Regions from separate parts of the Homo sapiens genome. Here all the other regions are linked to region 3. The links come from fine-mapping of genetic effects on gene expression. A gene starts in region 3. Each other region holds a variant in brackets. All regions are shown on one strand. Distances are between the middles of the regions.

What was found.
Region 1: its variant is fine-mapped to the expression of ARHGAP8 in thyroid (GTEx, PIP above 0.99).
Region 2: its variant is fine-mapped to the expression of ARHGAP8 in esophagus mucosa (GTEx, PIP above 0.99). The same link has a PIP of 0.9 or more in lung, pancreas, prefrontal cortex, prostate, stomach and subcutaneous fat.

Annotation. Positions count from the first base shown.
Region 1 is chr22:44,848,206-44,854,421 of GRCh38, forward strand. It overlaps PRR5-ARHGAP8 (PRR5-ARHGAP8 readthrough), which reads left to right. Exons shown (of 15, transcript NM_181334.6): 13 at 727-855. ARHGAP8 (Rho GTPase activating protein 8) reads left to right here. Exons shown (of 12, transcript NM_181335.3): 10 at 727-855. Among named protein-coding and RNA genes, the nearest start is that of ARHGAP8, 99 kb to the left of the region's middle. The variant C/T (reference allele first, on the strand shown) is at 3,130.
Region 2 is chr22:44,857,205-44,863,420 of GRCh38, forward strand. PRR5-ARHGAP8 (PRR5-ARHGAP8 readthrough) reads left to right here. Exons shown (of 15, transcript NM_181334.6): 14 at 2,527-2,630; 15 at 5,071-5,580. The coding sequence ends at 5,391. ARHGAP8 (Rho GTPase activating protein 8) reads left to right here. Exons shown (of 12, transcript NM_181335.3): 11 at 2,527-2,630; 12 at 5,071-5,580. The coding sequence ends at 5,391. LOC105373062 (a long non-coding RNA gene) reads right to left here. Exons shown (of 4, transcript XR_938302.3): 3 at 5,784-6,007; 4 at 2,252-2,279. Among named protein-coding and RNA genes, the nearest start is that of ARHGAP8, 110 kb to the left of the region's middle. RefSeq lists an enhancer at 2,150-2,844. The variant G/C (reference allele first, on the strand shown) is at 2,496.
Region 3 is chr22:44,749,434-44,755,649 of GRCh38, forward strand. ARHGAP8 (Rho GTPase activating protein 8) reads left to right here and starts at 3,142. Exons shown (of 12, transcript NM_181335.3): 1 at 3,142-3,194. The region is part of intron 4 of PRR5-ARHGAP8 (PRR5-ARHGAP8 readthrough); the gene reads left to right.

The DNA of each region.
Region 1 (6,216 bases), 99 kb after region 3:
GGGCCCACTGGTAGTCCAGAGTGGGGACCTTTTGTCCAGACCCCCAACCCCACTGGGACATGGTGGCCGCATGATGCCATTTTGCCTTTAGGGTCTCTCCATCCACACCACGTGGCACGTGCTTTCAGGAGACACCCTGCAGTGCAGGGAAGCTGGTTTTTTTTATCTGGCAGCTCCCCCGAATTGGCTCAGCACGGCTTCCTTAACTGCCATGTGTAACCCGCAGGCAGGGGCAGTGGCCTCTGAGCTGAGGATGCATTGCACTGACGCTAATGAAGGCGCTGTCTTGCTGACAAGACTTGCCCTCGCTCCCACTCGCTCCCGTCATCAGTTGTGCATTACACAATCATGGAGCATCAGGTCTGCACGGGGCCCAGCTCAGGCCTGCCTGTCTCAGGCCCAGGGCCTGCGGTGTCATCTCTGCCACAGACCTGGCCTCAGAGAGCTGGCATTGTAGCCGGGAGCAACAGCATGCCACAGAGAAGCCAGCAGCCCACCCCAGTCCCCACTGGGAGCCCGGGAGGAGGCAGTTAGGGTAGTGTAGGGGCTGATGGGGCCAGAGCACACCCATTTCTAGGTGGGGACAGCATCATCCCTAGGACACATGGCTCCAGCATCAGGTGCGTCCCATCCGGACATCTCACGCCCTGTGTCTCAGAGCTCGTTCTGCAGCGGCAGTGCCCAGGCCGGGGTGCAGACCTCAGCAGTGCTGTGTTGTGTGTGCAGGGAAGCCCGTGAACTTTGACGACTACGGGGACATTCACATCCCTGCCGTGATCCTGAAGACCTTCCTGCGAGAGCTGCCCCAGCCGCTTCTGACCTTCCAGGCCTACGAGCAGATTCTCGGGATCACCTGTGCGTAGCTGCCCTGGCGCAGGGGTGGGGGGCTTGGTCCTCAGATGCTGTCCCCCAGCTACTGGCCCAGGGTCAGGCTCTGGGGTGGCCGAGGTGACGTGTACCCACCCTCCTCCTGTTGCCATCTGGCACTGCAGGGCAAGAGAGGGGGTTGTTGGGGCTGCCCCCACCATGCACAGCCAGTCCACACTGTCCAAAGGCAGAGGAGGTGGGGTCGGTCAGGGTTGTCCAGGCCGGTCTCTCAGGCACAGCTGGGCCAGGAGGCAGGGTGATGGGGGGCTCTCTAGATTTGGGGCTCATCATCCTGGTCAAAGTCCTGCCTGTAACCGCTCCCAGGCCCCAGACCCTCAGCTCTCTCATCTAGAAAGGGCTCTCGGCATTTCTCCCCAGATCATTGTAGGATGCCAAGCATATATCACAGGAACTGAGCAGCTATAGTGTCTGATCCTACAGGCGCTTTGTGATGGGTCAAATGCTCAGTGTGGCTGAGCACAGATGACTCGTAAAAAACTCCGTAACAGCATCTCAAAACACTGGTGAATGCTAAGGAAAGTGATGCCTCGAAAGAACCATAAAACCCCTCAGGCCTTCATCTAAGTCATCGAACACCGTCTTTTCAAATGGGACTACCTCCAGCGCCCTCCTTTCTTCTTGGAGCACTAACAGTCGAAGGGGGGAGCTGATTTTGGTGTGAATTCTGAAGCAGCTCGGTTAAGATATCGTAAAGACAAATCTTGAATCTTAAAATCAATGTTTCTACCCCACTGTGTATTCAAGAATCACATTTGCCCAAAGGGCAGCCTGGCCTTTGTCCTGGCCCCTGGGGGGTGACTTCTGAACCTTGCACTTTCCCAAGGGGCAGGAGTTACCTTTGTCACTCATCAGGGGCCCTGATGGTTTATGGTAACTCATGGTTATGGTGTGACTCAAGATAGGGGTGTAGGGGTGGCCATTCCAGAAAGACCAATTACATGGTTAGAGGGTGCGGGCTTTGAGTGATGTGAGACCAGCCTGACCTCTGGGGAGGGCATGGGGCTGGAGACTGATTTCAGTCTCAAGGCGTCCTGTCAAGGTCGCTGGACCCCAAACTCCCCTCAAAGGCAAATTTACACCCATTTACTCAGCAGTGCTCCTAAGCGCCTGCCAAATGCAACGCCCTTTCTGAGATGGGGAAGGTCTCTCCTACACCCTGGAAGACCATGAAAGATGTTGAGGGCTGACTGACTTTGGCTAGTGGATGGGAAGCCTGGGAGAGTTCAGAGCCAGGCTGAGCCTCATGGAGACAAATTTGATCATGCGCATAGAGGTACCTATCTGGTGGAGACAGAAGGAGGCACTACATTCAGCAGCATCCTACCAGCCGGGGCCAGAGCAGGCAAGATGGACAATGCTCCATCACCTGAATGCGCCAGGCTGTGTCCTAGAGAGAAGCTTCCAGAAGCCTCCCAACTTCATTAGCCCCTGCAGAGGGATGATGACTCCAGCCTCTGTAGGTTCCTGCTTGAGAAAACTCAATGCTGCCAGGCGAACTTACTGTTTGTTCCAGCCAAAACCTGGTGACAGGGAGATAGGCCCTGGAACCCCTCTTTGAGCAGCAGTTCCTTTAGAAAGCTTGCAATTGTGGGCCAGGCATGGTGGCTCACACCTGTAATCCCAGCACTTTGAGAGGCTGAGTTGGGTGGATCACTTGTCATAGGAGTTCAAGACCAGCCTGGTCAACATGGCAAAACCCTGTCTCTACTAAAATACAAAAATTAGCCAAGCGTGGTGGTGCACGCCTGTAATCCCAGCTACTCAGGAGGCTGAGGCAGGAGAATGACTTGAACCCAGGAGGCAGAGGTTGTAGTGAGCCAGGATCGTGCCATTGCACTGCAGCCTAGGTGACAGAACAAGACTCCATCTCAAAAAAAAAAAAAAAAAAAGCTTGCAATTATGAATCCTTTATCTGTCCTTTGAGATGAAAATCATCTACCACCCAGAGCTATGTCAAGGACCTGAGAGCCATCTCTTTGAAATGAAAACATTCAAAGTGCTACCTCTGCCTCCCAGTCCCCGGGGAGGGAAGGACCCAGCTCTGGCTTGCACCACTGCCTCCGGTCATAAAGATACCAGACATTTGTCCACTTCCGGATAGGCACCAATTAACAAACCTGGAGAGCGTAGTCATATTAAGCAACCCTCTGTTGGGAAGGAAAAAATCCTTTCCTGCTACCCGTCTTAGGTTCATTGGTGGGAACCCTGTAACTTGTTATTCTGACAAAAGACAGATTCACA[C/T]GAGAAAAGCATGCCAGTTTATTTAATGTAAGTTTTACATGACACAGGAGCCTTTTAAATATTTATTTATTTATTTATTTATTTATTTAATTTTTGAGACAGTGTCTCGCTCTGTCGCCCAGGCTGGAGTGCCGTGGCATAATCTCGGCACACTGCAACCTCCACCTGACATGGGAACCTTTATGAAAATGAAGAAAATGAAGACCCAGGCTGGGCATGGTGGCTCATGCCTGTAATCCCAGCACTTTGGGAGGCCAAGGCAGAAAGATCACTTGAGTCCAAGAGTTTGAGTCCAAGAGTTTGAGTCCAGCCTGGGAAACATAGTGAGACCCCATCTCTACAAAAGATTTTAAAAATTGGCTGGGCTTGGTAGTGTATGCCTGTAGTCCCAGCTGCTCAGGAGGCTGAGGTGGGAGATCACCTGAGCCTGGGAGTTGGAGGCTACAGTGAGCCATGATCACACCACTGTACTCCAGCCTGGACAAAAGAGCAAGACCATGTCCCCAAAACAGAAGGAATGATGGAGGGAGGGAGGGAGGAAAGCAAGCAAGAAAGAAAAGAAATAAAGAAAATGGGCCGGGTGCAGTGGCTCACTCCTGTAAACTCAGCACTTCGGGAAGCCAAGGTGGGTGGATCACCTGAGGTCAGGAGTTTGAGATCAGCCTGGCCAACATGGTGAAACCCCGTCTCCACTAAAAATACAAAAATTAGCTGGGCGTGGTGGTGGACACCTGTAATCCTAGCTACTCAGGAGGCTGAGGCACGAGAACTGCTTTGAACCCAGGAGGCAGAGGTTGTAGTGAGCCGAGATCGCACTGCTGCACTCCAGCCTGGGCGACAGAGTGAGACTTTGTCAAAAAAAAAAAAAAAAAAAAAAAAAAAAGGAAGGGAGGAAGGAAGGTGAAGGAAGGTGAAGACATGGTTCAGCCCGAATGTTTTGATACTAGGTTTGGTGAAGAGTGGAAAGTCATGGAGCTTCAATTCCTTTTGTCATTCCGCCGTCTTTAGAGATAAGGCACCCTCTGGACATAGGGAAGACCCCCTCCCATTAGAAGGTTTTATGATCTGCTACACAGAAGTAGGGGGAGTCAGAGAGAGCCCTTCCCACACCTGCCTTTCTTAGATTCCTTCAGCTCAATAACATATTCAGCATGCCCAGGCTCCATATTTGGGACAGTAGTGTTCCGGACCCCAGCATTCCCCCATCTGGAACTTTCCCCAGGAAGTTTTACAGTCCAGAAACTGAGTTGGTAGATTGTCTCATGTTGCATGAATCCTTCTCTCAGTGCTGTGACTAGGTCACTCCAGGGAAAGAGTTGTGTCTCAATTCAGGAGGTAGCGGTGGAGGTGGGAGTAGGGTGACTACCTAAGTCAGCCTGTTAATAAGGGGCCTTTCTTTGTCAACAAACATGAAGTTCAGTGGTTTGAACAAACCATAAGTTCCGGGGATTTTTTTTATTTTGTTTTTTGTTTGTTTGTTTTGTTTTTGAGGTGAAGTCTCACTCTCACTCAGGCTGGAGTGCAGTGGCACGATCTCGGCTCAGTGCAACCTCCACCTCCCAGGTTCAAGCCTTTCTCCTGCCCCAGCCTGCCGAGTAGCTGGGACGACAGGCCCGTGTCACCACGCCTGGCTAATTTTTTGTATTTTTAGTAGAGACAGCATTTCACTGTGTCAGCCAGGATGGTCTCAATCTCCTGACCTTGTGATCCGCCCACCTCAGCCTCCCAAAGTGCTGGGATTACAGGCATGAGCCACCGTGTCCGGCCTAAACTCCATTTTTTTAGTCAGGAGAACATTTAGTTGAGAAGATTCCTAGATGTTGGCTTGAAGTATCCTTTCATGGTAGAGAGAGAGTGGCAGCAGCTGGCCAGTGAATTCCATAGTTTGCAATTTAGATGTCTTTGGTGATGGCACTGGGTGTTCCGGTGAACTTTCTGAGCAGACTGAGTAGGAGGCACAAGGACTATCCGTACATCATCTGCTGTGATTTCTCTGAAGTTTATATCAAGTCTTCCAGCGTCAGCTTTTGGGGCTTTGGGGAAATGGCAGGTTTTAGTTCTTTGTCATGCCAACTCAGGGGGTAGGAGAAAACTGGAAATGTTAGCTTGGAGCGTCGTAGCCAGATATTGGAGGAAAGGAGAGGAACTGAGAACCCGCAAGCGTGCGCCGTAGTTTTCCACGGGAGCATCATTTCTCTGTACCGTTGCTTCTCTCTTGATTCTCAGTTACAAAATAAGTCTGGTTTCATTAGAATTTGGCCTGATTATTTACATAAGGGCAGCAAGAATGGGAATTGACCTATGTCGGCTCTTTTTAAGTCTACCTTGCTAGAACTTTTAATAAGGAATCTCAGATTCACTTTTTAAAAGCCTCTTGAGGCTAGAAAGCCAAGTTAAAAATTTGCCATCAGGGCCAGCTGCGGTGGTTCACGCCTGTAATCCTAGCACTTTGGGAGACCAAGGCGGGTGGATCACCTGAGGTTGGGAGTTTGAGACCAGTCTGACCAACATGGAGAAATCCCATCTCTACTAAAAATACAGAATTAGCCAGGCATGGTGGCATGCACCTGTAATCCCAGCTACTCGGGAGGCTGAGGCAGGAGGATCGCTTGAACCCGGGAGGCAGAGGTTGCAGTGAGCTGAGATCTCACCATTGCACTCCAGCCTGGGACACAGCGAGACTCTGTCTCAAAAAAAAAAAAAAAAAAAAAAAAAAAAAAAAAAAAAACCATCAGACTTTGCCTGCAGTATCTGTAGATTTGAGAGAATTCCTCTCTTCTCAAGGTTCTCAATATATTTTAAGTTTCCTGGGCCTGCCAGGAAGCGGCCTTGCTTACTCACTGTAACGTCATACATAACACTGAATAAGGCTAGTTGTCATTTCAAGGAATTCCCCTTGTATCTTTTTTTTTTTTTTTTTGAGACGGAGTCTTGCTTTGTTGCCCAGGTTGGAGTGCAGTGGCCTGATCTTGGCTCATTACAACTTCTGCCTCCTGGGCTCAAGTGATCCATCTGCCTCAGCCTCCGGAGTAGCTGGGATTACAGGTGTGCGCCGCCACACCCAGCTAATTGTATTTTTAGTAGAGA
Region 2 (6,216 bases), 110 kb after region 3:
GCTGGTATTATAGGTGTGAGCCACCACGACCAGTCTTGAGTAAGAATTCTTTCTTTTGGCCGGCTCTACCAGGGGTCCTGGCTCTCTGTGCAGCTCCCAGACCAAGTGAGGTGTTCCAGCCAAGGGTACCTCATCCCCATGACTAGAAACTGCAGGGAGGGTCAAAATCTTTTCCTTCTCCCCATCTTAGGTTCCTTGGTGGGGGCCCTGTTGCTTGGACTAACAAAAGACAGATTCACAAGAGAAAAACATACCAGTTTATTTACTAGAAGTTGCACATGACATGGGTACCTTCGTAAGGAAACGAAGGCCCAGAGATCCAGTCCACTGAGTGTGCTGATGCCAGGTTGGAAGAAGAGTGGAGAGGCGTGGGAAGTGCGACGGACAGGGGAGTGAGCCTGGGGCAGGAAACTAGGGGGACATGCCATCTTCAGAGATGAGTTTGCCCCTTCCCTCTGGGTATAGGGAAGGCGCCTCTCATAGGATGATCTCATGGCCTGCTCCAGAGGAGAAAGGGGAGGTCAGAGAGTCCTCGAGGCCCAGCCTCCCACATGCAAGCTGTGTGACCTCGGGCTAGTCACCTAACCTCTCAGAGCTCTCTTTCCTCCTCTCTCTACACTGGGGTGGTTGAAATGCTTGACCTCTTGCTCCCTCATAGGGAGTGCTCAGTGACATTGGCGGTTGTGACGCTCAGCTCACCAGTCCTGCCTACTTGCCAGCAGGTATTCTCAGAGGGACCACAGAGCTGAGGGTGACCTGCACCAGTACCCACTTGGGACCATAATTCGTAGATAAGGTTCAGGCACAACACCCAGAGAAGGAAATGGCAGCCACCTGGCTCGGTTGAAATACTCATTTCAAGGGAATTCCTTGTCCATTCAAATGACTGAACAACAGCTTGATTTCATGGAATAATGGCTTTTATTAAGAAGCCAACAGGAATGATCATAGTGGGGAGTCTTGTGTCCTGGCAGTGGGTGTTTGTAGAGCACCCGGTGGTCACCAGCAACTCTGTGCAAGGCTCAGTGGGAGGGTGATTGGTGTGTTGGAGGATGTGGGTACACAGTAGCATAGGCATGCATGTGGCTGAGTGCACACATGTGCATACATGTTCACACATGCACCCGCAGCGGGAACTTGGTGAATACTTGTTGGTTGGTGGTGGTTTTTTTTTTTTTTTGAGATGGAGTTTCACTCTTGTTGCCCAGGCTGGAGTGCAATGGCACCATCTCGGCTCAGTGCAGCCTCTGTCTTCTGAGTTCAAGCAATTCTCCAGCTTCAGCCTCCCATGTAGCTCTGGGATTACAGGTGTGTGCCACCATACCCGGCTTTTTTTTTTTTTTTTTTAAGTAACAGGGTTTCACCATGTTGGGTCAGGCTGGTCTCGCACTCCTGACCTCAAGTGATGTGCCTGCCTCGGCCTCCCAAAGTGTTGGGATTACAGGCATGAGCCACTGTGCCTGGCTGGTTGGTGGGTTTTGACTGGAAGGCTATGGAGCTCCAGTGGTAGATGTGGTTATAAGGGTAACTGGGGGGTCTCAGAGTGGGGGCCAGTTGCATCAGGCCCCTGGAGGGTGGGACACTGCCTTTCCAAGAGCAACAAAGTGTGGGCGATTTGTGGTGCTGAGAATCCTGAGCAGGCAGTTCGTCTAGAGCAGGGTTGCAAACTTTTTCTGTAAAAGGCCAGATAGTAAATATGTTAGGCTTTGTGGGCCTTGTAGTCTCTGTTGCAACTACTCAGCTCTGCCCTGATGAGGCAAAAGCAGCCACAGGCAATGTACAAAATGTCCGTGGCTGTGTTCCAAGAAAACGTTATTGGCAAAAACAGGCAGTGGGCCAGATCTAAGCCATGGGCCGTAGTTTGCCAACCCCTGGTCTAGACCACTCCCATTTATAAAGTGATTCGGCTTTAGCAGCTTCCTGGAAGGTGGTGCTGCTGGCTGATAAAGCAGAGGGATGGAGCTTGTAGAATTCAGGTGATGATAGGGCTTGGATCTGAGTCCCCAGCGCGTCTCATGTTGAATTGAAACTTTGGAGGTGGGGACTGGTGGCAGGTGATTGGATCATGAGGGCAGATACCTCATGGGTTGGTGCTGTCCTCGAGATAGTGAGTTCTTACCAGATCTGGTTTAAAAGCATGTGGCACCTCTGTCCCACTCTCTCTTGCTCCTGTTTTTGCCACGTGATGCACCTCCTTCCTTTTTGCCTTCTGCCATAATTGGAAGCCTCCTGAGGCTTCTCCAGAAGCTGAACAGGTGCTGGTGCCATGCTTGTACAGCCTGTAGAACCATGAGCCAGTTAAACCTCTTTTCTTATAAATAACCCCATCTCAGCAAGAATAGCCAAACACACAGGTTTGCTGAGCAGAGCCATACGGCCAGAAGATAAGTGGGGGTCCCAAGCCCAAATGTGGGATAGTCCATCCTCAGAGCTGTCCTTCCTACACCCCTGTTCTCCTCCCGGGCCGGGATGCAGCGCTGCCCCTGGCCCCTCTG[G/C]AGCTCAGCAGGGAGCCCCATGCCCTTCCAGGTGTGGAGAGCAGCCTGCGTGTCACTGGCTGCCGCCAGATCTTACGGAGCCTCCCAGAGCACAACTACGTCGTCCTCCGCTACCTCATGGGCTTCCTGCATGCGGTGAGTGGGGAAGGGGGGAGCTTGGGGTGAAGCCCAGTGGCCTTCCCTCCCATGCTGGGCCCGCATGGACCAGTCCCCTCCTTGCCCTGGGTCTGGGGTCATGCCCTGCTTGGGCCTCGGAATACCACTCCCTGCCCCCCAAGGACCTCATCCAAGGCCTGGTCAGGCACCCATGCTGCTGCGGACCTCCTGCCTGTCAGACAGGGCGTACCTGCCCCTGCCTGCTCCTGTACCTGCTGTCCCTCAGCCATTGCCAGTGACTTTTGTTATTGGGGTCCTCTGCCCCCATGTCATTTCCTGCTTGGGCTGAGTCTCTAGGAGGTGGGAGCTGTGTCCACCACTGGTACAGAGCCCAGTGGACTGAGCTGACCATTCCTGGGGAAGGGATACACCCAGAACCACGTACATTAAGTTCCTGTGACTGCATCGTGGGTGCCTTAAAACAGATTTACTGTGTCACTCTTCTAGAGGCTAGCAGTCCAAAAGCAAGGTGTGGCGGGCTGTGCTCCTTCCAGAGGCTCTAGGGAAGGTTCCCCTTCCTGGCCTCTCCCAGCTCCTGGTCACTCCAGCTATGCCTCCAGCTCCCCCCTGGCCTTTGTCTGTGTGTGTGTCTAATCTCCCTCCACCTTTCCCTCCTAAGTGTGGACCCCCTGCCATATGTCACTGGGTTTAGGACCCACCCAGATGACGCGGGATGATCTCATCTTGAGATCCTCAACGACAGCTGCAACGGCCCTCGTTCCAAATAAGGTCACAGTCAGATTCTCTGTGGTCTATCTTAGAGGGGCCACCATTCAATCTACTACACACCAGGCTAAGCAAATGACCAGAGAGAGAGAAACCCTTCAGTGCTCTGGGCCTGGGCTTAGTGTGCTCTCCCCCTGGGGCAGGGATCCATTTGGAGCAAAAACCTGTGCAGCCAACAGGGGAAGGTTCAACACATCCACGTGGGTCCACCCCCAACCCCCAGACCCACGGCCTTGAATGTTTAACCCCCTCCATCTCTCCAGGCCTTCGCCCCAGGCTGTGCAGGGTGAGGAGAGCCTGAGCAGAGTAGGCGTCACATCCCAGAGTCTGTTGGAGAATGTCACTTCTTGGTTTTACAACAATTTTTTTTCTCCCTGTTGCTTGACATAATTTCTCAGAGGCCCAAAACTAAACTCTCCTAATTCTCTCAAAAAAATTTTTTGAGACAGTCTTGCTCTGTTGCCCTAGCTGGTGTGCACTGGTGCAATCTCAGCTCACTGCAACCCCAGCCTCCCACGTAGCTGGGATTACAGGTGAGAACCACCATGCCCGGCTAATTTTTGTTTTTTTAGTAGAGATGGGGTTTCGTCACATTGGCCAGGCTGATCTTGAACTCCTGACCTCAGGTGATCCACCTGCCTCGGCCTCTTAAGAGTGCTGGGATTACAGGTGTGAGCCACTGCACCCAGCCTACTTCTTTTTCATTAGGAGAGACTGATTTCTCTCTCTAGCCGCCACCTCCATGGGCACCGATGTGAATGCACCTGGTGGGGTGTGGTGTTGCGTGTTATCACCCCAGTGGCACCTGGGGGCCTCGGCTTGAGGAGGGGTGGCCTGCAGTGGGCCTGGCTGGTGCACACCTGCAACGGGCTTGGGGGACCGGCAGCCAGGGGGAGCCTGAAAGGCATCCAGCCATCTCACCTGAGCATCCTCAACAGATCTGTGAGGGTGGTGCCTGGCCCTGCCTCCCTCCAGTTCTCTGCTCTGCCCTGGTACTCACCGCCTCATGACCCCTGTTTCTGACTGAGGTTCCCCCCAGCTTGAATCTTGTAGGGAGGCAAGGAGCAGAGAACAGGCCCTGCCCTCACGTTGGTCCACATGGCCCCCTGCCACTGGCTGGCCACATGACCTTGGGCAAGTCTCCTGTACCTTCCAGGCCCCAGATTCCTCATCTGTAAGATGGGGAGTAATGACTCCCCCGTGCTGGGGTTGCACGTGTTGGCGGAGATGGACAAGGAGCCCCTTCTAGCAGGCAAGCTCTTTCCACTCTCCCTGCCCCTCGTAGTGGCCCCTAGATGTGCTGGCTGGTCCCCATCATGCCCAGTTCGCCACTCACAGAGCCGAGGCCAGAGAGGTCACCAAGTTCGTACCGTCTGTGCTACAGCCCATCCCCAAGATTGCATCTCCCCAGAAGGTGCAGTGGAAGAGGAGATAGTGGGGGGTTGAGGCTGTCACAGAAGGTCAGAGCCAGAGGGTCCTCCAGGACATGGAGGCCAAGCCTTCCTTTTAGAGATAGGGTAACTAAGGCCCTGAGTGGGCAGGTGGCTGCACAGGGTCCCCATTACTGGCTGCCGGCTCCCAGTCCAGTGCTCCTCTCACTACACCTACGCCTCTCCCTAAGTTCGGGAGGGAGTTCCAGGTGCCCGTGCCCCTTGGTGTTCACTCCCCTTTACTTGTGTGTGGTTTCCTCCAGGTGTCCCGGGAGAGCATCTTCAACAAAATGAACAGCTCTAACCTGGCCTGTGTCTTCGGGCTGAATTTGATCTGGCCATCCCAGGGGGTCTCCTCCCTGAGTGCCCTTGTGCCCCTGAACATGTTCACTGAACTGCTGATCGAGTACTATGAAAAGATCTTCAGCACCCCGGAGGCACCTGGGGAGCACGGCCTGGCACCATGGGAACAGGGGAGCAGGGCAGCCCCTTTGCAGGAGGCTGTGCCACGGACACAAGCCACGGGCCTCACCAAGCCTACCCTACCTCCGAGTCCCCTGATGGCAGCCAGAAGACGTCTCTAGTGTTGCGAACACTCTGTATATTTCGAGCTACCTCCCACACCTGTCTGTGCACTTGTATGTTTTGTAAACTTGGCATCTGTAAAAATAACCAGCCATTAGATGAATTCAGAACCTTCTAATGAAAACTCCATGCCTCTGGTCCTTGGACTCTTGTCCATGGTTCCTGAGCTGTGGACCGGGATAGAATAATGCATTTGTTAGGATGGATGTTTTGAATCCCAACCCAATGTGGTTTAACTGAAAACAGGAATGGAGTGGCTAACGGCTGCCAGGTCCTGCTGCTGCCACACTGCTGTGTAACACACCACCTAAGCCCAGTCACTGAAAGTTACTGCCCAGGAGTCAGTGGGTCAGCTGGGTGGTTCTATTGGTCTTTTGAGGGGGTCACTTACATGTCCTGGCTGAGCTGGCTGGCAGCTGGGGTGACTCTGTTCTCCCCCAGGTGTCCCAAGTCCTTCCAATGGCCAAACGGGGCACATTCTTACAACATAGGTCCAGGTGCACACACAAGCGCTATTGCAAGCAGTTTTCATGCTTTGACTGGCGTCCTGTATGCTCACATCTCATTGGCCAAAGCAAGCCTGGTGGCCAAGGCCAGGGTCACAGAGGGAGGGCCCTGCAAAGGGGGTGGATATGGGGAGGGTGAAGAATTGGGCATAAAGCAGCCAAGCTGCCCGAGGGCTCTGGGGTGCGACAGGACTCTGCAGTCTCAGGCAGGCTGACTCTTGGGCTGGCAAAACGGGCCCTGTATTTCCATCAGATATGGTAGAGAAGGATACAACTTCTTAGTGCCACAGTCCCAGCAAAAAAGCCCCAGGTTCACCC
Region 3 (6,216 bases):
GACAACATGGTGAAACCCTGTCTCTACTAAAAATACAAAATTAGCCGAGCATGGTGGCGGGTGCCTGTAATCCCAGCTACTTGAGAGCCTGAGGCAGGATAATTGCTTGAACCCGGCAGGCAGAGGTTGCAGTGAGCCAAGATTGAGCCATTGCACTCCAGCCTGGGCAACAAGAGCGAAACTCTGTCTCAAAAAAAAACAAAAACAAACAAACAAAAAAAAAGTAAATTGTTCTAAAGAGCTTCTGCATAGCAAAAAGAAACTATCAACAGAGTAAACAGACAATCTATAGAATGAGAGAAAATATTTGCAAACTATGCAGCTGACAAAGGACTAATATACAGAAACAATAAGGAACTTAAATGAATCAACAAGAATAAAATAATCCTATTAAAAAGTGGGCAAGGGGCCAGGCACGGTGGCTCATGCCTGTAATCCTAGCGCTTTGGGAGGCCCAGGCAGGCAGATCCCTTGAGGTCAGAAGTTTGAGACCAGCCTGGCCAACATGGTAAACCCCATCTCTACTACAAGTACAAAAATTAGCTGAGTGTGGTACCGTGTGTCTGTAATCACAGCCACTTGGGAGGCTGAGGCAGGAGAATTGCTTGAACCCAGGGGAGGAGGTTGCAGTGAGCCGAGATGGCGCCACTGCACTCCAGCCTAGGTGACAGGGCAAGACTCTGTCTCAAAAAAAACAAAGAACAAAAGACATGAACAGACACTTCTCAAAAGAAGACATACACGCATACAAGCAGCCAACAAACATGAAAAAATGCCCAACATCACTAATCATCAGAGAAATGCAAATCAAAACCACGAGGAGAAACCATTTCACATCAGTCAATGGCTATTATTATTATTATTTTTTCTGCCAGCATCTTGATTTTGGACAGAATGGCTGTTATTAAAAAGTCAAAAAATAGGAGATATTGGCAAGGCTGCAAAGAATGGGGAATACTTATACACTGTTGGTGGGAATGTAAATTAGTTCAGCCACTGTGGAAAGCAGCTTGGAGATTTCTCAAAGAACTTAAAATAGAACTACCCTTCAACCCAGCAATCCCGTTAGTGGGTACACACCCAAAAGAAAAGAAATCTTTCTACCAAAAAGCCATCTGCACTCATATGTGCATAGCAGCACTATTCACTATAGGTTAGATATGGGGTCAACTGAGGTGCCCATCAATAGTGGATTGGATAAAGAAAATGTGGTACATTTCCAACATGGAATACTATGCAGTCATGAAAAAGAATGAAATCTTGTCCTTTGCAGCAACATAGATGCAGCTGGAAGCCATTATCCTAAGTGAATTCATGCAGAAACAGAAAACCAAATATGACATGTCTCACTTCTAAGGGGGAGCTAAACCTTGGGTACCCACAGATATAAAGATGGGAACAAAAGACATTGGGGACTCCAGAAGGGTGGGGGGAGTAGGGCAAGGGCTGAAAAACTTCCTATTGGGTACTGTGCTCACTACCTGGGTAAGGAGATCAACAGAAAACCAAACCTCAGTGTCACCCAATATATCCCCTAACAAACCTGCACATGTACCCCTTGAATCTAAAATAAAAATAAAAATAATAAGTTGTTGATTGGCTACACATTTTTCTCTGTATCACAAGTTGCAGGAACATGCAGATAATGGGTGAGGCAGTGAGTCAGGAACAAAATGCCTTTAAACCATGGCCCCCACGGCCGGGTGCGGTAGCTCATGCCTGTAATCCCAGCACTTTGGGAGGCCGAGGTGAGTGGATCACTTGAGGTCAGGAGTTCAAGACTAGCCTGGCAAACATGGTGAAACCCCGTCTCTACCAAAAATACAAAAAATTAGCTGGACATGGTGGCAGGCCCCTGTAATCCCAGCTACTTGGGAGGCTGAGGCAGGAGAATTGCCTGAACCCAGGAGGTGGAGGTTGCAGTGAGCTGAGATCGCGCCATTGCACTCTCAGCCTGGGTAACAAAGCAAGACTCTAAAAACAAAAACAAAAAACAAACAAACAAACAAAAAACTATGGCCCCCCAAGCACTGCAGGGGGACCTGGACTGAAGTCCTATACTACTGTTTCTCTGGGCCTGATATATTTTGTTGTATCTAAGCTGCTTTCCTCAGATACAAATCCTTCAACAAACCCTAGGGAAAATTTCCTCTCAAGTCCCTCCAATTCTCCCAGTTCTGCCACGCTTTGTACACCCCTAACGAAAGGGGCCAGGTGCAGTAGCTCAGGCACGTAATCCCAACACTTTGAGAGGCTGAGGAGGGTGGATCACTTGAGCCCAGGAGTTCCAGACCAGCCTGGACAACATGGCAAGACTCCTGTCTCTACAAAAACTACAAAAATTAGCTGGGTATGGTGGTGCACACCTGCGGTCCCAGCTACTCGGGAAGCTGAGGCCGGAGGATCGCCTGAATCCAGGAGGTAGAGGCTGCAGTGAACCAAGTTCAAGACACTGCACTCCAGCCTGAACAGAGCGAGACCCCTGTCTCAAAAAAGTAAAATTAAAAATGGGGCCCGGCGCAGTGGCTCACGCCTGTAATTTCAACACTTTGGGAGGTGGAGGCGGGAGGATCGTTTGAGGTTGGGAGTTCGAGACCAGCCTGGCCAACATGGTGAAACCCGGTCTCCACTAAAAATACAAAACTTAGCCGGGCTTGGCGGCGCACGTCTGTAATCCCATCTACTATGAAGGCTGAGGTGGGAGGATCGCTTGAACTCGGGAGGTTGAAGCTGCAGTAAGCCGAGATCGCGCCACTGCACTCCAGCCTGGGCGACAGCGCGAGACTCCGTCTCAAAATAAATAAATAAATACATACATACATAAAGTAAAATAATGAATAAATAAAATAAGAAATGGGGAAATGGATCAGCAAGAAAGTGCCCGCCCCAGGCATGGGTGCCGTGCGGGACGGGGACGCGGCCCAGCCGGGAATCGGGGTGCCCAGGGTGCGATGTGCGAGGGGCTCCTGAGCGCGTGTGCTCCGCCCGACCCCGCCCTGTCCCCCCGACACACAGGTGGACCCAGGGTCAGCTCGTGCACCTGGGAAATGGCTCCCGCCGGGTAGCAGGGGCGGAGGGGCGGGGCTGGGCGGAGGGGCGGGGGGGCGGGGCCTGCCCGGGAGCCACGTCCGGGGAGGGGCCAGGTGAGCGGCAGACCCGGCACGCAGGTGGGGGCCGGCGGGGTCCGTGGCCAGGTAAGGCGGGCGGCGGCGGGAGGGAGCGCGCAGGGAGGAGGCCGTGCTCGGGGTGGGGGGGTGCGCCGCGGGGGCTCCCAGGGCGTGTACGGGGACAAGGGGCCGCTGGCCGGGTAGGGACGCCCAGGCGGGCGCGACGCCACGTGCGGCCGGGGGGAGACCCTCCGGCCGGCGCGCAGCCTCCGGGTCCCCTGTGGGTTCTAGACTCCCTCTCCCTTCACCTCCTTTCTTTCCCGCCCCCCCACACTCCCCTCCTCTGCTTTTTCCCCTGTCCTGTTCCTTCTCACCCCGCACCGCCTTCCCCGCCCTCGCCTCTCTCAGCCTGCGTTTTGGTCTGGTCTGGCCGGACGGTGTCAGCTCAAATGTTCCTTTTTTGCTTCCGTCCTGGGGTCTCAGGTTAGGTCGGGTCAGCGCCTGGGGGAGGCACCTCCCCCGCCCCCACACACCCCAAACCTACAAGGTGGGTGAGGTCATTCCCGTTTCATAGATGAGAAAACGGAGGCCGGGGCAGGTGCTGCGCTGATTCAAACTCAGGGGGTGGGGGGCTGGCCGGTTCAACACACAGCGGTGGAACCCCCCGGGAGTTAAAAGCAGAAACTTTTTTTTTTTTTTTTGACACCGAGTCTTGCTCTGTCCCCAGGCTGGATTGCAGTGTTGCATCTCTGCTCACTGCAACCTCCGCCTCCTGGGTTCAAGCGATTCTTGTGCCTCAGCCTCCCGAGTAGCTGGGATTACAGGGACTGACACCATGCCAGCTAATTTTTTGTATTTTTAGTACAGACAGGGTTTCACCATGTTGTCCAGGCTGGTCTCGACCACCTGACCTCAGGTGATCCGTCTTCCTGGGCCTCCCAAAGTGCTGGGATTACAGTCGTGAGACACCGCGCCCGGCCTAAAAGCCCAAAGTTTAAACCAATCCGCTAGCAGCCTCGGAGGTCGTCAGGAAGGCAGGGAGGCCCTGCCTTTCACTTTCCCTCAATCCTGTGGGGGGTGGGGGGGCTCCTGAGAATCCCTCGGGCTCTGCCACACCCTGACTTGGAAATTTCTCCGCTGCCTTGGGAGGAGTGTGAAGGCCCCGGAGAAGGAACCGCAGAGTCCACCCGGGAAGGAGGGTGGGATTGTTTGGCGGGATGGGGACAGCACCTTGGCCACCGACTTCAGGGTTTTGTGACAGAGGCTGTGTAGATTCCAGAGAGCTCTGTGCCGTCCCTCGCTTGCCTGTGAAATGCAGTGTTGGCATTTGTCCAGCTGAGAACTCAATGCTTAAGACTCAGCCGTTTCAGAAGTCGATGTCCTTTGGTTGGCCTCTCTGTTGGCAGCTTTAGGATCATGTTTGTGGACTCCTCATTCGATTCACTGACTAACCATTCCCCAAACCAACGCCAGAGTTGGGGGTAGGGCGAAGAGGGACATGGGATGTGGGCCTGAGCCCAGCTGATTCTTGTGGACAGCCAGCTGCCTGGTCCCTGCCCTCAGGGGCCCAGAGTCTGGCTTCTGTGTAGAGAGAATCCAAGGGTTTGTGGGAGCTTAGGAAGGGCTTCCTGGAGGAGGTGGCCATTGAGCTGGAAGGTGGATGGGAGGTGGATGGGGAAGAGAATGGCACCTACTGGCTAGGGATACTTCGCTTGTGAGGTACGGGTGGAAAAGTCCATGGAGTGCCTGACGGGGTGGGCCAATTTACTTGGATAACATCATTGGGTCATTGAAACTTTGTGTGTGTGTGTGTGTGTGTGTGTGTGTGTGTGTGACGCAGTTTTCGCTCTTGTCGCCCAGGCTGGAGTGCAATGGCACGATCTCAGCTCACTGCAACCTCTGCCTCCTTGGTTCAAGTGCTTCTCGTGCCTCAGCATCCAGAGTAGCTAGGATTACAGGCGCCCACCACCACACCCAGCTAATTTTTGTATTTTTAGTAGAAGTGGGGTTTCACCATGTTAGGCAGGCTGGTCTCAAACTCCTGACCTCAGACGATTTGTCTGCCTTGGCCTTCCAAAGTGCTTGGAGTGCTGGGATTACAGGCATGAGCCACCACACCCGGCCGAGTCATTGAAACTTACTTGACTTAAACATGCCTGGGACATCATGCCATCTGCCTAACAAGCCAGTTCTAGGCTGAGCTATTCATGGGCACACTGTAAACGATGGAGTTAAAGGCGGCTTCGGTTAAAGAGACGAGAGCAAGGAACTCAGGTCCTGGAGGTGCCTGACAGTATGTTTCACCACATTAAAAAAAACCCATCCCATTCCCTGATTTTACCCTCATTTCACTGATAGGGAAACTGAGGCACAGGCAGCATGAGGGTGAGAAAGAGATGGAGAAGGAGTCAGCAGACCTGGTTTTTAGGCAGGTCACTCTCCTTCTGGGGCACTCAGCCTCCTCATCTGCAAAAGGAGCTATTGGCTGTCCTTCCCCACTGCGATGGTGGTCACCAAATGGCCATGAAACCCTCACTGCACACTTGGCTGCCTGACTCCTTGCTCACATCAGGAGGCACGGACTGTTACTGCCCCGTTCACAGATGAGGAAACAGACAAGGAAGGTTAAGGTCCCATGGCTAGTGATTAGAGAGCCAGGCTTGGAAGCCAGCGGTGCTGCAGCTACAGTGTTCCCCGTGTCCCCACCTTCCTCCCACACACACTGTGCTGAGCCACCTCCCTGGGCACTGAGGTGTGCCTCCCACATGGGAGCTGGTGTCTGGTGTAAGATGGAGCCATTCGGAGCCTGCCGGTGACTACCCTTCAAATCTATGTGAAATTAGCATGGGGAGAGAAAATAGACGTTTTCCATTTCTTTCCAAATTATTTAACTTTTACCCCTTGGTCCTTTAATTAAAACTGATGCTCAAGGAAGATGCATCACGTGTGTCCAGATGCTTCCCAGGCCTCCCTGGGGTGCATTTGAGGGGAGAGCCTCTGGGCCCTGCACTGTGGGACTTAGCTGCAGGAGAGCGCGCTGCTCCGGAGTCCTGCCCCAGCTGCCTTCACAGGGCGTCTCCCTGGAGCTTCTGGCAGCCTGTTGTGTCCA